Regions from separate parts of the Homo sapiens genome. Here region 2 is linked to region 1. Evidence: fine-mapped expression QTL. A gene starts in region 1. The other region holds a variant in brackets. All regions are shown on one strand. Distances are between the middles of the regions.

What was found. PIP is the estimated chance that this variant, and not a neighbour inherited with it, causes the effect. A credible set is the group of variants that fine-mapping cannot tell apart.
Region 2: its variant is the best candidate, but not a certain one, in a credible set for the expression of SPMIP5 in anterior cingulate cortex (GTEx, PIP 0.85).

Annotation. Positions count from the first base shown.
Region 1 is chr10:116,665,635-116,673,634 of GRCh38, forward strand. SPMIP5 (sperm microtubule inner protein 5) reads right to left here and starts at 4,332. Exons shown (of 6, transcript NM_001350931.2): 1 at 4,293-4,332; 2 at 2,624-2,689; 3 at 1-192. The coding sequence starts at 2,678. It overlaps HSPA12A (heat shock protein family A (Hsp70) member 12A), which reads right to left. Exons shown (of 12, transcript NM_025015.3): 12 at 5,558-8,000. HSPA12A-AS1 (HSPA12A antisense RNA 1) reads left to right here and starts at 4,421. Exons shown (of 3, transcript NR_187551.1): 1 at 4,421-4,644; 2 at 4,760-4,851; 3 at 6,571-7,104.
Region 2 is chr10:116,801,442-116,809,962 of GRCh38, forward strand. It overlaps a transcript of HSPA12A not described here. Among named protein-coding and RNA genes, the nearest start is that of MIR9851, 22 kb to the right of the region's middle. The variant G/C (reference allele first, on the strand shown) is at 5,182.

The sequences.
Region 1 (8,000 bases):
TGTACTGGTGCAGGGCCTGCAGGACCGTCTCCTCGGAGTTGACAGGTTTCAGTTTCGGGGCAGTGGCCACTGCGCAGCACAATTCCCGCAGCTGTTCTTTATAGCGCTGTGTTTTCTCCTGGAAGGTTTTCACACAGTGGTTCATGTCATCCTCCTTGGACATTCCTTGGCAGCTGAGGAATGGCACAAAGCCTGCAAGAGCCGAATGGAATCACAGCCTTCAGCAAGACTGGCCAGCAAGGAATTCAGAGCCCGCCTAAACTCCCCAGCATTTCAGCCCACCCTTTGGCATTTCTTCCTCAGCCAACAGCACTACGTTTTTCCAAAGGCCATTAATACAAGCAGTGCTGTTGTTTCCACTGCGGCTGGGCCCTCCCAAGGCCACAAAAAATGACCTTGGAGCTGGGGAGGGAAGGCCCATTTCAACAAAGGCGATGACAGTAATACTCTTTGAATAGCAAAGCCCCTGATGTCAGCCTGACGGAAAATGGGGAAAGCATTTAATGGGCCAAAATGATAGTCTAAGGAGTAATTGAAATTATTCATCTTTTTAAAGAGAAAGCTTATTTTCCTCGACACTTCCCAAATGCAATTTGGGATCTTTCTTGCCGGACCATCAGGAAATTGCAGGCTTATTAAAAGTAGAGCCCTGTTACACAAAAAGGTAAATTCATTATCTGCAAGACCCACCCCTAGCACAATTTTTCACCATTTCCCACCAAGTAACATATAATCATTACAATTAGTATGGGTAAAACACAACTATTTACTTAAACTGGAGGCTGAATCCTAAGTACTATAATATTGTCACAATAAAACCATTTTTTTTTTTTTTGAAGAACAAATGAGGAAAACTGGTTAAGAACTTAGTTTCAAACTGCAAAATAAATAAATAAATCTCTCTCCTTATGGAAACCCAACATTTTTGCCATGGTCTCCAGGAAAACAAAACCTGGCTTCAGAGTTGAAAGTAGCAATCCTCACCCCCAGAGCCCTACAATAACCCCCTCTGGAAGAACCTAATTACTAAACTAATCTTGACAGTGTTGGAAGCCTTCCATGCATCGCCCAGACTCCCCAACCCTTGGATGATTAAAAGATATCCTAACATTATGAAGACCCTAGGGGCTTTGCCACAGTGGTTTCCCTGCCATCAGGGCCGACTTTGGTCTGCCTAGGTTTTATATTAGTGCATATATGCACAGACATAAGCATACGAACTACCTTTATCGAGTCTCGCTAAGGACCAAGACATTTAAAATAGGTTATGTATGCTGGCTCCTTTAATCCTCACAACAATCTTATGGTATCCCATGTAGTGGGTTGAACTGTATCCTCCAAATAGATATATGCAAGTCCTAACCCCTGGTACCTGTGAATGTGCATTTATCTACAAATAGGGACTTCTCAGATGTAATTAAGTTAAGGGCCTAAAAATGAGATCATCCCGGATTTAGGGTGGGTCCTAAATCTGATGACTGATGTCCTTATAGAGGAAAGAAGAGAGAGACTTGTGACACAGAGACAAAGGGGGAAATGCCGTGTGAGGATGAAGAGAGTGACTGGAGAGATGCTGCCACAAGCCAAGAACACTGGGGCCACCAGAAGCTGGAAGAAGCAAAGGTGGGATCCTTCCCTAGCGCCTTCAGAAAGAGCATGGCCCTGCGGGCACCTCGATTTCAGACGTCTGGCCTCAGAACTGTGAGGGAATGCATTTCCATCACTTTAAACCACATAGTTTGTGGTAATTTGTTGCAGTGGTCCTAGAAAACAAATACATCCATTTTATAGAATGTTGTACTTACCACAGAGAGGCAAGTTACTTACAGTCTCATCGACAGTGACCAAACAGAGATTCGAACCTCAGCTTGTCAGAACCCAAAGCCTATTCTCAACCAGCCATTAGGACCAGAGTGAGGTTGGGCAACCCTGGAATATCACCCAAGTACTATTCCTCCTGAGAACGGCTGTATGGGAGAGCCAAGGGTCTGTGGGGACCACTGGGTTTGTCACCCACAGGGATATGACTTAGTAAGTTCTCAGTAGCCCAGAAGCCTGAGGAGGAATAGCCTCTAGGTAGGGCAACCAATCGTCCTGGTTTGCCAAGGACTGAGGAGTTTCCCAAATGCAAGATTTTCAGTGTTAAGGAAAGTCCCAGGCAGTCCCAGGACAAAGGCAGTCCCAGGTAGACCAGGGCAGTTGGCCAGCCTTCCTTTAGGGGATGCAGGAAAGGATGGGAGCACAAGAATAACCTTTGTGGAGGACTTGAGAAAACCAACTTGGGGAGAACAGGGCCTCTACTTATTCATGTGTCTATCCTCATCACATTGTGTCTATCCTCATCACATTGTGTCTATCCTGGTCCAAATTCATTCAACAGGCATTAAGTGCTTCCTCTGCATACCAGGCCATGTTCTGGGACGTGTGGTCTAAGTTCTGCCCCTCAGAACCCGGCCATCAGCCATCTTCAGCGATGGAATGCTCTCAATGCATGTCTGAGAAGCTAGAGCGCCTAGACTGGTCCAGTTGGCTGCACAGACACAGACAGTGGGTCAAGGCAGGGACAGTGACCAGGACCCGGGTTCCCCTGCCAGGCACAGCTGCAGGGTACGTCCACACTTACCGCTATAGCCTGGTGTGATTGGCAGGTTTCTCATGAAGGTCTTGGAAGGCTCCATGATTTCGCTCTCTGTTAGTGGAGGGAAGAGGGAATGAAACGGTCTCATCAAAAGTCACTGCCTTAAGGAATTACTATTGAGTGTGCACAAGCTCTTGGGAGTGGAAGAATGACTGCCAGGAGTTGGGGCTGAGAGGCAGCACTACCACCTTACCCAAAGCCAGAGACACAGCTGGCTTCAGTCACAAACCAATGACCTATTACCAAGGGCCCATCACCTTTTATGTTAACTTGGATAACAGTGTGTAGATCACACCTACCAGGGTCTCCTCTCCCCTCCATCCGACCTCCAGCCATCCAACAATTGTGAACTGTACTCATACTATGGCTGTGAAACATGATAGAGGCTGGGAATGCAAAGCTTCTGAGCAAGCCCAGAAGCCCCTGTGTTAGGTTCATGAGCCTCAGGTGAGGAGAGAGATGAGGCCCGCACACCCCCAGACCTCCTTCTTGATCCAGGTGAAATCAGGTTGCAGTGGTGATTTTTGCCAGCCCCCACCATTACCCCTGGAACATCTGGCAATGTCCAGAGGCATATTTGGCTGTCAGAAGTGGGGGATGGGATGCTACTGAACATCCTGCAATGCTCAGAAGCCTCCCCCCACCCGCCGGCACACACATGCACACACACACACACACACACACACACACACACACACAAACAAGGGAGAAGAAATTCTGGCTTGAAGGAATCAGGAAGTCCCAAAAGGCAGACATGGAGTCCAAGGAGGGTAAGCAGAGGCCACCCTCTGCTTCAGGGGGCTCCACTGAAACATCAGTTTATGTGGATGCTGTTTCTGCAATAAGACACCTTCCCTCTTTGGGTATCGCTGGTCATTCCCCCCAAGTGGGCTGAGGCCTTGCCAAGTCCTGCCCTGCTGAGCCAGTTCATCTCTTTAAAGAAATGCCTTTGAGGCTGGAAGAAGAGGATTCAGGGTGGAGGAGAGGGCCACAGTCATGGCTTAGTCAGCAATGATGGGGATTGTTAAGACAGTTCAGCCCCCGCCAGGCTGACAGCAGTGAGGACTGTGCCGCGTCTAGGCCACTCTAACCCCTGGCATCACGTACCTGACTCCTGGGAGGAAGCACTGGGCCTGGAGTCAGACAGACCTGGCTGTGAGACCATGTCCCACCCATACTGACCACCTGCTTACTTTTCTGAAAGCTTTCCACGCTTGTTTAATCCTCTCAACAGCCCCATGATATAAATGCTATATTATACCCATTCCCCAATTTAAAAAGGCAACAGACAGGGAACACTGGCTATCCCCATGTGGTTGCAGCAGAACCGCATTCTCCTTTAATCCCCACAGCTTCCCTAAGAATGAGTTCCTGTTGGAACCCCCATTTTATAAATGTGAAAAATAAGGCACAGAGAGGTTAGGTAACTGGTTTCAGGGTTCCAGAGTGAAAGGGGGTGCGAACAGATGACCTCTAAACTCTCAGGGACAGGATATGTTGCCCAAAAGCATCAGCTGGGGTATAAGCCTGCCTGGAGGAGGTGGGCAGGGAGGAGGGTGGGAAGAAAGGCGGTGTCCTGAGAAAGGGGGCTAGGAGTGGGTAGAAAGTAGGGCCCCTCCTAGCCACCCTCTTCCAATCCCACCTCAGCGCTCACCTGGGCGGGGCTGGCGCTATCCGGTGCCCACTTGGCCTCTGCCCGGCCGCCCAGGATCCCTGCCTTCCACCAGGCCTTTGTGCGCTCACCCGGTGGAGCACAAAGGCCCCACCACCGCCAGCCTGCCCCTCCCCCACCCTTCCCGCGGTCCCACCTGGAAGGTGGGCGCTTCCCCCAGCGCCCGGCACAGCCCGGACCCCGGTGTAAAGTCGGGCATCTGCGCAGTAAACATCTGGCCTCGGAGCTGTCCTCCGCGCCTTGGCTGCCCCAGCCAGGGGAAGGATATGCGGAGGGCTCTAAGTCAAAGCGGGCGTTTTTGCGGGTGTAGACACTGCGGCGCCTGGGTCTGCAGGTCTGGCCGGGGAAGCGGGTGGGCGGGAACAGGGGGCGGGGCCGGCAGTGGGCGGGAGGAGGCGAGGCCTGGGGGCCCTGGCGCCTCCAATACAGGAGCTTCCTGGGCCTGGCAGCCCCTCCCTCCCTGTCTCCTGTTAGGAGGGGCAGATTTTCAGGTGGCCGGGACAGGTGAAGGCAGAGAGGAGTGGCTGTCCACCTGGGGAAGGTGAGTCATCCTTCTTTCTAATCACTCTTGGAGGGACACCCAGACTTCCTCTCATTGAATTGAAACCCACCAAGATGTCCGCCCTATGAACCAGCATGTGCTGGCTGCTCCCTTTACAGAAAATGACGCTGAAGCTGCGCTACTTCCAGGACACGCTTGTTTGCTGCACCTCCCGGCCTTCCCTACCTCTACTTTTCTGAAAATTGAACTGCAAATGAAGGCTGGTGGAGCCGACCACCATTTATACCTCTCTTTTATCACCCCATTTAGAACATACCTCGGGCCATCAGGAAGCTTTCAGAGCCAACTGTGGAGGGCGACTCAGGTGTAGGCTCTGGACACAGCCAGTTTCACGTGACGGCTGGGATGCCCAGGGGCAAGAGCCCAGCCAGGCCTTCTGCATGTTTTAATGACTTACACTGGGGTGCAGTGGCATTGGCAGTGGTCACTCTGCTTACCTGCCCTCCCTCTGGCTAGACCACTTTCTTCCAGAGAAAAGGGGCTCTGTGCCCATCGATGGGGCCTTGGTTCCCAGCAAACAAAGGGCCTAGTCTTGTTAGAATAACTTAAGAAAACTTACAGCACCTGGAAAAAACTGAAACTCTCTCTCCACCACCTGAGATGGGGTAGAGAGGGAGATCAGTACTGACGTGTCCATCATGCAGTTTGCAAACCCAGGATGGGGGGAAAAAAAATCTGGGCCACATGAGATTCAGAGTTTTGCTTTATTAGGCGTCTGTGAAGACAAGAGAGTTTGCAGACACAGTCCCGTCTGGTGGTGAACTGCTGCAAAGTTCTGTGAAGTTTGAATTTATCTTGTAGTGAATGAGACCCCAGTAGCTGATATTTTAGAATACTGGTCCATATTTCAAGCAGATGAGAGGTGTGGCATTATGGCCAACAACTTTTATATTAGCCATCCACTCAAGCCGTTTCCCAGCATACATATGCAGCTTAATCACAGCTATACATCTCTACAATGTGAAATTCGATCTTTGACTAATAATGCATTCTGACTCCTGTTTACATTGGTGCATGCGATTCTTTGCTACCCTGGCAATTAACCAGACCTGGACTCTAAAAGCTAAACTTGGTCTAAATAACATTCTAAGGGTAAGGCAACCTCTATAATCTGGACTCAGCCATCATTTTGCAAAAACAGTTGTATGGTTCCTCCTCTTTCCCCTCCTGTCTGTAACTTGTCTGTTACTCAGCATTTATTCATGCCTGCTGTGTACGGAAAGGGCAGTTACAAAGGAAAGCCTTGATGATTCTGCTTCCAAGAAACGTGAAGATCAGATAATATGCCAGGGACAATTGAGTAATGGGTCAAGACAACAGGCCTTGTAGGTATTTTCTAAGGTTAGAAAAATGTGTTCAAGTGTACTTATCCAGTGCTCTTATTCTAGAATATTCCAGTGGGGGTAGGGAAGGAGGGATGGATTTGGGGGTTTCATTTAAGGACTCTGACAACTGGGGCTGCAGCTCTGTGGCCAGAAGATAAAATTATCATCCTCTCCATCACCTATCTGCCAACACTGCAGATTTCTATCTGCTCATTTAAGAGAAACAGTACACAGGGAGATAGCATTAATGCAAGGCAGGAAAGGCTTTACATTAGCCCAAAAAAGAGGGGCTTGACCATGTTACTCACACTTACACTTAGCCCAGCAGAAAAGCTGGGCTTATGTACCACTTGGTTTCTTTCTTTGACCCTAGCATCCTGAAAACATCACACACAGTGGACCACGCTTTGCCCTCAGAGTGACTGCTCCGACCCGGAAGGAGAGGTCAACGACCCCTCAGGACACAAAGGGTTTCTTAGGTTGTTCTGCGCAGTCACATGGCTTCCAGAACCAGAACGTTCAGCTCTTAAAGTCTGCACAGAAGAACTGATAGAATCTGCTCCTTTCAATGGAATCTGTGACTGTTTGGGAAGGATGTGCATGGAGAAGGGTCTGATGAGGCTCCTGATCCAGGCGGTCCACGTGCGTTCAGTGTGTTTGGACCCTAGGCACCTCTGTCTATTGCTCGGTCTTGCGTACATAGTCCATAGCTTGGCATCAGCACAGATCGATGCTTAGTGAGCACAATTAAGAAACCAAACTATGGAAAATTAAGGACAGTAACAAAAGTATCATCAACAAAAATCAAGCATTTTCCTCTTTTTGAAACAAGAAAAGCGCATCGTAGAAACCAAGATTCTGTACAATATTCTAACATTATATGTACATAAAATTATATTACTCATAACTATATTGAAAAGTCTTATTTGTAGAATATGGCTGGCAACAAAGAAAGACCCATACCATTTAGCGTTTGAAGCAGGGCAGGTAGCAAGAGAACATTAGCAAAGACACCTTTGTGCCTGGATACACAATCCTGCTACTAAGTTATGTGACTAACCAGCACACTCTAAGTTCTGTGGTTTGTTCGTTGTTTCACATTCTAGTAGGGAATTCTGCAGCAGGCGATGCGAAAAAGAAGACATGGTCAAATGAAATGTGAAATGCTGTTTAAAATCTGCATATTGGCTATGATAATGGGTTTGTGAATCCAAGTTGCATTGGAAGTTCACTCATTCTCCATTCATTATGCATGCCTCCAGTGATTTAATGAATTTCAGCAGGTGGAAAAGACAGCTTTGAACAGATCAGATGGGCTGTGAGTCAGATTCTTGATTCTTTTTCCTCATTTGGCTCCTGAATGTTGCAGAAAACTGGTTTTGTACACTGGGGAAGGAGAGAGTGAAGACCCTCCAGTTGGTTCCTCAGTCAGCTCCGTTCTTGGTGTCGCTTTCTTGCAATTTTTTTCCTCCCCTGGCCCTTCCTGTGAGGGTTAAAAGGGCCATCTCCAAGCCAGGTGGAGCCCCAATCCCATTGACCAAGAGGGCAAGGTATGGGGTCACCTTCTCATGGAAGCCCTCTTCCTAAAGGAGCCCAAAGGGGACACCTGCAGAGGGCGGGCTGTGATCTGTGTGTGAACTTCAACAAAATCTCAGGTTAGTATTTCTCCAATTTCAGTTGAACCACGATGTGGTATACACTACAAATGCAGATTCTGGTGCCCCTCTCCAAGAGTCGGCCTCAGTTAAAAAGGGCTCAGATCCAGGAACCTGTTCTGAACACGCACCCAGGCAATTCTGATGC
Region 2 (8,521 bases), 140 kb after region 1:
GAGATTGTCCTGAGTGTTAAGAGCCCCCATCCCGAGGGGGTTCACAGGGAAGTTGGAGAAAGGGAGTTCCTAGCATCTGGTCACCTCACACTGAAAAAACGAACAGCTGCCTTGCACTGGATCTAAATTCAAGCATTCCCACGAGCGCAATAGCTCAGAAGGACCCAACAACCACAAAAATAAATTGCACAGAGAAAGAAAAAAAGCATATTTATTATACTCAAACCTAATACGTGGTAAGTTTAATAGCTTTGTGGCAAATTTATACACGTCATAAAATATCATAGAACTATTCACCAAAAGAAAAAAAAAAGCGCATGTAAAATCTGGCAAAATCCAAATAAAGCTTACTTAATAGTATTGTACCAAAGGCAATCTCCTGGCTTTGATCTTTGTCCTGTGGTTAGGTGGGAAGCCATCTCTGGGGGACGCTGGGTGAAGGGTACACCAAGTATACCCTTTTTTGTGTCCAGAAAGTGTACAACCAATGGCTGTACTATGTTTGCAACTTCTGTGTGAGTCTAAAATCATTTCAAAATGAAAGTTTAAAAAAATGTGTGGGCTGGGTAGAATGGAAACAGGCCTGCTAGCCACCCTGGGGAGGGCATAAGCTCTGGCACGGGCCTTTGGGAGAACAAGATGGCAGCATCCACCAAAATGTAAAACATGCTCACCCAGCAATTCAATCCTGGGAGTCCAGCTTACAAAATGACCCGACCAAGTGTATATGGGGTGTTCTTTATGGCATGGTTGTCATTGAAAAATCTAGAAATAAACTGAATCTCCCAGAGTAGGACAATAATCAGTGAACATGAGCTGCCCAGGCCCGTGGACTCCTGTGCACTCACCATAAGGAAAGCAGCCCTGCAGGAAGATATTGGTGATGCACTGCTAAGCACAAAATGTGGCCACAAAATAACATGTATCTGCGTGCATATGTCTAGGAAGATCCCATTTCCCTAAAATCTTATCTATATACACGTGCACCATATGTGATTCTGTGAGCAGGGGAACACTTGAGAGGATGCACCTTCAAGGGGTCACAGTGATTGCTTCCCGGATGGAAGGTTCTTAGCAGAGGTAACAAAGGGTCACTTTCACTTTGTTTAAAATACATTACAATGAGAATGTGTTACTTTTATAATTAGAACAACAACAGGAACAAAAAAAGACAATGGAGGCATGGTGGGAGACGCCAGGGTGAGTGCAAAGACTGACCAGGAAAGTCACCGGGGCCACAGGAAGGGGGCAGCTTATCCCAGAAGGCCACTGAGCAGAGGCAGGCTGCCCCGATCACGGCTTGCCTACCTCTCCCTGGCAGGGCCTTCCCACAGGAGGGACATCCTTCCCTGCCCACTGTTGGGCTTGGCCGTATCATGGGCCACAGAACATGAGCAGATGAGGTCTGCCAAGTCTGAACAGAAGTTTGAAGAGCCATGGCCTGGGTCAGCCAGATCTGTGTCTCTTCTCCCTTTGTATGTCTCTGACAGGTGTTACCCTTTCAGTCTGGGTTCCCGAACGAAGGAGACCCGTGGAACAGGGCCCAAGCCAGCTGGCAACGACCACAGAACAGGGCAAGAAATAAAGCATGTTTGGAGTAAGCCACCGGGAGATGAGGATTGTTCGTTACTGCAGCCTTACCTTATGAAAGCTGACGCAGGCGCCACGAGGCATGCGCACGCGTGCACACACACGCACGTATTAGGGAACTGACAGGTAGTTGGTATTTTCTGAGGGTATGCTGTGTGCAAAACATAGGTACACTCGAGGCAGGGGACGAGAGGGTGTGCGGAGAGAATTCGGGAAGATGCCTGCCGACTCCTTGGGGAGCCAACATGCGTACACGCAGATATACACGTACCCAAACACGCTGGCATGGAGCTCACAGGGGCCACGCAGAGTGGTGAGAAAAGCCAGACAGTGGGGCTGGCAAGAGACACTGTGGGGAAGAGGAAGATCCCATGGGCAAGGACCCAGGTACTGCCTTTCTGCTTCGGTATCTAACCCCGCAGGCACCCCCTGAGCTGAATCCAGGCATTCTAATAAAGCACAAAAACAATCACTCCCAGTGTAATCGCCCTCCCCTTTAAATCAAAGGTTCCAGGAAAACACCCACCGCCTGGGGCTTCTGTGTGGGCCTTTTGTTCCTGGGAGATGCGCTCTTCCACCAGAGAAGGCCCTTCTTGGATGATATGTTCTGTGTCTCTTGGGAATGATCGGAGCGTGAACTGTATTTCCAGAAACCAGCTGTTTCTCTTCTGAATGAGGCACATCTTTGTGCAAGGCACACTCTCTTAAAGACGACAAAGGGATGTGAGCTTGACGAAGGGTGTAAATACCAAGTCTCCCTTCCCGTCTTCTCTGACTGCGTGACCACGGTTCATTCATAATGTTTCATACAAATAGGCCACTTGTCACTTTCTCCTCTAAATCTGGACATTTCTGTTTAAAGTCCACTCCCTTACCACCACCCCCTTTTGAAAATAACACAATTAAGCCATTATTAGGTCCCCCAGTAAAAGATTCAAACTCCTAAGTACACGGAGAAGCAAAATGTGAGAATCTCCCCTTAGCCCCTCCTCATCCCCACTCACAAATCACGCACTGTCTTGCAACGGCCCCTCTGTGCAGCTCCCTACGGTCGACAGGCACATACGCATTTATAGCCTTTGCTTCCCTCCCTCCCTCTTGTCCTTCCTCCCTCCTCCCTCCAAAAAAACGATGCACGCATTTTCTTAAGCCACTCATTATTCTTATTTTCACCTGACGACGGGACGAATCTGCTCGCTTGTGGGCTGTTTGGTTCAGCAAATGCGAAATTCATCAAACACCCCAACGTGTTCAGTTAACCAGGGGAACCCATGGTTAGGGGAACTGAGGCTGGGTCCGCCGTGAAGTTGTAACAGCGGTGGCACCAGGCTCCCCGATTTGAGGGGTTGGGCCTTCGGAAAGCAAAGCTTGCAGCGTCCTATGGGGCTCACATTTCCAGAAGGGGTCGGAGAACCTTCATCCTGTAGCGGGTATACCCTCCCCGAGTCCCTGAGATTCTCGGCCAACTCCACTCCAGGTCTCTACCTCCCCTTCCTCTCCCTTTACCCCCAGCCCCCAGCCCCAGCCACAGCGAGATCCCTCCGCTGAGGCATCAGGAACATTAGTGGGAGGAAATGTTCCTGCGTGTTCCTACGCAACAAAATCAAGTGCATGTGTAGGTGTTCTGTGTTTTTACAAACTCTCCTCCCTGGTTGTTATAAGATTAAAACAATTTTCCCCCTCAGTAAATGCTTCCCTTCAAAACCACTGGAGGCACATAATCTCCCAGCCCATTTGCAGCTCCTATTTTCTTGGGGCTGGGAGAAAAATAATGATTGTGGGACCTGTTTCCTTCTAAGAGGCCAGGGTTGAACAAGTGATGGACAACAGAAGTAATGTTTCAATGACAGCTCTGATCAATGTTTCTTTTATTTTGAAGTTCAAAAAAGATAGGCGAGCCTTGCACGTCCTGTGGGAAGGCACGGATAGTGGGGATGGAGGTAAATTATCTTTTATCCCCAGTAAATTTAATGGACACTTCCATTAAAACCGCAGGGAATGTTGGACGGGCGCGGTGGCTCACGCCTGTAACCCCAGCACTTTGGGAGGCCGAGGCTGGTGGATCACGAGGTCAGGAGATCCAGACCATCCTGGCTAACACTATGAAACCCTGTCTCTACTAAAAATACAAAAAATTAGCTGGGCGTGGTGGTGGGCGCCTGTAGTCCCAGCTACTTGGGAGGCTGAGGCAGGAGAATGGCGTGAACCCGGGAGGCGGAGCTTGCAGTGAGCCGAGATCGCGCCACTGCACTCCAGCCTGGGCGACAGAGAGAGACTCCATCGCAAAAAAACAAAAACTGCAGGGAATTTTCAGGTAGTTCTATTCCATTTTAAAGCTGGAGTTGAAGGTTTTTTTTTGAATTCCTAGATCATTTTTTACTGCTGAGAAAACTAAACATTTTAGCCATGTGGCACATTTTATTTTCCTTAACAATGATGGGAAATTCACACACACCTGAGGACACAGAAACACTACTTAAAATCACAACAGATTTCAAGGGAAAATGTACACAAAAGGAGAAAATGAAAAAGCTGTTTCCGTTGATGTTGGGCGGGGGGGTACTGACTTGTGTTTGTCCTTGAAAAAAACAAATTCACCTGTCACTGATCAACGATGCCAGTTTGCCACCATGCTACTGAAAAAGCATTCCTGCTGACTGTAAACGGCCCCATTTATGTGACTGTTTACATAATTGCACAGCGAAACATTGCAATCTTTCCAATTTAATACATGTTTTAAGAAGCCCTTCAACTACAGTGTAGGCTTCTGTAATCAAATCAAGTCTTTTCAATTAAAACACAATTAGAAAAGGTGTCAGGTTGTCACTGTTACATTTTGCTGCGTAAAAGGATTCAAGAATCACCTGGCTGGAAATCGGAGCTAACCCAGGATGCCTGAGCGTAAATGCCACCTCAGACCACCCAGGAGGGCACCTAGGCAGTGGGCCTTTGGTCCAACGTGAGAGATGCATACTGTCATCCTTGGGCCACCTCTGTGATGGACTGAAGGCAGAGATGAAAACCCAGTGTGGCTCTCAGCTTGACCTCCAGGTGCTGACAAGTGTGTCATGGGCCAGAAGTGGTGGGCACAAAGTTACCAGAGAGATGGCCATCTTTCCCTAGCATGAGTGACAGCACAGTGGAATTCTACAGGAAGACACTGCTGTAGATATATATATATACATTTTTGAGACTGGGTTTCACTCTTGCCCGGGATGGAGTGCAATGGCACGATCTCAGCTCACTGCAACCTCCACCTCCCCAGCTCAAGCCATCCTCTCACCTCAGCCTCCTCCTCAGTGGCTGGGACTATACAGGCTTGAGCCACCATGCCCAGCTAATTTTTGTATTTTTTTGTAGAGACAGGGTTTCATTATGTTGCCCAGGCTGGTCTGAAACTCCTGAGCTCAAGCAGTCTACCCACCTCGGCCTCCCAAAGTGCTGGGATTACAGGCATGAGCCACCTCACCTGGCCTATTGCAGACATTTGATCTATTTCATCTTAAAGATGTGAAACAGAGCTCTCAGAAGACACAGTGTTTGCCACAGGCCATGATATGAATCATTTTTTGACACAAGGTAAAATGTGCA[G/C]CCCCACGCCACCCCTACTGAAGGATCAGTATCTACTTAAAGCAGATATGCAAAGGTGCCCTGGCTCACAGTGCTAAGGGGCCCTCGTTCCGAGAGGCCATTGGGAGACAGAAGGTTCCCTCCCATCTCAACACATCAGGGACAGAGGTTAGATGTGGAAGGCTGGTGCAGGGGATTGACCCGTGGCCCCCCAAAAGATATATCCATGTCAAATCCCTGGAGCCTGTGAATGTTATGTGGGAAAAGAATCTCTGCAGATGTAATTAAGGATTTGGAGATGAGGAGATCGTCCTGGGTTACCCAGTTATAAATCCAGTGGCAAGCGTCTTTGCAGGAGACACAGATAGGAGAGACACACAGGTAGAGGAGAGGAGAGGGTGATGTGAAGACAGAGGTGGAGACTGGAGTGATGCAGACGTCAGCCAAGGAATGCCTGGAGCATCCAGAGGGACTGTGGCCCTGCCAACACCTTGATTTTGAACTTCTGGCCACCAGAACTGGAAGAGAGTACATTTCTACCCTGCTCTCTGCCAAGGGAGCTACAACCAGGGGCTCTTTGACTTCTCGGTGGGCTCAGCCAGTGCAGGGCCTAGAGGGAGGGAGGAGAGAGGCCAGACATGAAATCTCTGGCTCCCTTCCACGGGGTCACTGTGAGCTGGCTGTGTTCCTCAACCTAACGGCCATAGCTCCTTTCGAAGCAGCCCTCTCCAAGGGACTCTCTGTTTCTGGGTCCCTGGACCTGCTTTCCCCTCTTACCCCTGCAGGCTTAGAGCTCATATCAGCCCTGGTCTTCCTGATACCCTGCTCATACCTTTGTAAACAGTCCCCGTATCCAAACATCCTCGAGTTAACTGGATTGAGTGTGCCACACATACCCTGCCAAGAGCCTGATGAGCATGCTCTGTTGATGTAGCAATGCTTCTATCTTATGGCACATTTGATCTATGTGAAGGCAAGTCTACTCCTTCAGGCCATTAGCTACTAGGTCAGCGGGTCGTCCCCATTTCTCTATGAGATAAGGGTTCTGGGGTGTCTGCGCCACTTGGAAGTAAGTGAGGCTCACAGAGGTGAACTGTCATTAGGACAATACACCGTGAGTCTGGAGCAGAGCAAGGATCACACTGCAGCCGTTCAGCCCCAATTCTGGGCTGTTTCCTAGACTAAGCTGTAGACCAGGCATGGCAGATTCCTGGCCCTCTGGCTACCAACGCCTCCTCATTCACAGCCTGGCTGACATCATTCTTCAATCAGGACATGCAGACTGCGCCCAGACTTCATCCTGGGATCTTCCTCAACCCAGCTCTCTAGAAGGCAGGAGGATCAGTCAGCACTGCTGGGCAAGTGTGTCCTGCCTGCTACAGTCTAACAGGCTTTAGCCTCTGGCCATCTCCTCCTACAATGTCTCCAGGGTATAATTTCCCAAGGTAGTTTCTGAGGACGCTGGTCCCCTGGGTTCCAAGACAATGCCAGCTTTTTCTTTGGAAAGACTGAAGGTTTCAGGGTTATCTGAAAGTCCCCAGGGCTTTTGGAGGAATATAGAAGAGTTTGGCGAAGGGGCCTTGAGTTTTTCTGATGAGGGATGAATGCTGAGGCCCATCCTGGAGGTAGACAGTGGAGAAGGAGCTTGGCTATGAGAACAGATGTCTCAGTTGCCACTGGGAGAAGAACTCTGGTGGGGAAAGGGGGACGGGGGCTGGGGGGCAGCCAGGAAACTTCAGAGGATTTAGGAAGTTTAGATGCAAGCTGGGTGACATCACTTCCTCCTCTGTTGGTCGCCCCAAGAAATCCTCAGTAAAAATCCACATGACCACGACTGTTTTGCAGTGTGGTTTGTGCGTCTGTGGATTAACATGGTATGAGGCTGATTTCCATGGTGGGCATTTCAATCGCCCCACAAGCACACTGGAGGCCCTAAGGAGTCCTGTAGTTTAGAGAACTGCGGGACCTCAACACAGCGTTTCCTTAAACCTGTTCATTTCCAGAACCTGATTTTCATGGTGCAGCTTAATAATGCCCAGCGTGCATCCTGTTCCCCACAATGGTCTGGCGTAATTATGGCCAGATCCATGATTGTGCTGCCATCTTTATTCAAATCACAGTTGAAGAGTCCCTCCTTTGAGGGACAGAGAGCCTTTCAGATCCAGTTGGTCTCCGACTTTTGCACATCTGATGCTCCACAGCTCACATTCCTGTACAGGGTGTATTTACAGAGGGCCCCGCACCGCCGTTCCTATGTTCAGACTTTCCTACAGTAGGCTACCGTAGGGTCACGACATGGCGGTGCCACTGACCAGGCAACAATTCAGTATCACGCCCCCAGTGGCTAGCGGGGAGTGGGAGGCAAGTCGGGAGGGGCCTCCTTCCACAGACTTCTCTTCCTCCGCTCCTTCCTCTTCCTAGAGGGCTGTCCTATGGCTCCAGCAGCATCCGGCCTGGGCACATGCTTCCTGGGACACCTGCCGATCTCTAGAGGCAGGGAAGGGGGAGGATGAGGCACATCAAAGGGCTTAAGTGGGGACTCAGGGGAGCCACTTCCCGGCACCTGGCTCAGGGGCAGAGGCTTTTCCTGACATTTTACATGTTGATGAGGCACAGTTACTTGCAGGTAAAGTCACCAGCATCACCAGCACAAGCCACCACTGAGGCTACTCATGACTGAAGCCCTCTGGTGATGGGGCTCCATTACCCACCTTTGCACAAAGAGGAAAGCACCCTGAACCCTCATGAAGGCAAAAGCTCCGGAGTCAGACACACCTGGATTCAAAGCCAGATCTGCCTCTTTCTAGCTTGAGTTTGACCAAATTTCTAAATTTCTCAAAGCCTTAGTTTCCTTGTTTCTAAAAAGAGGGCTGAAAATAGCATTTGTGCTCTCTGTGCAAGGTGAGGATTCCACGGGAGAGCCCAGTAGAATGAGTAGCCCATGGCCTGGCACACAGGAAGTGCTCAACTGACGTCAGCAATACTGCCGCTGCTGCTGTTTCATCAACACATTTCAGCGACGCCGGGGACTGTCTGCGGGGGAAACCCACTCACTCCTGGGATTCAGGAAAATTGGCGGTTCCAATATTTGCTGTGCCAGCGCCTGGACAGCTTCTTGCTCTCTGGCGCCTCTCCAGGCCTGTCCCCACTACTGCATCTGCTCCAAAGGACCCTTTCCTAAAAAGAGGATTCAAAAAGACAGATGTTGCTCACCGCCATAACTGCAGCTTCCTCTTGGGTATACAGAACTGGCAGAGCACTGGAAAAGGCGAGACTTTCGGAGAGAAAGAGGGCAGCTACCTAAAACCTGTCATGGCTGGTTCTTCCAGTCGCACAGGATCCCTGGGGAGGGACCCGGGGA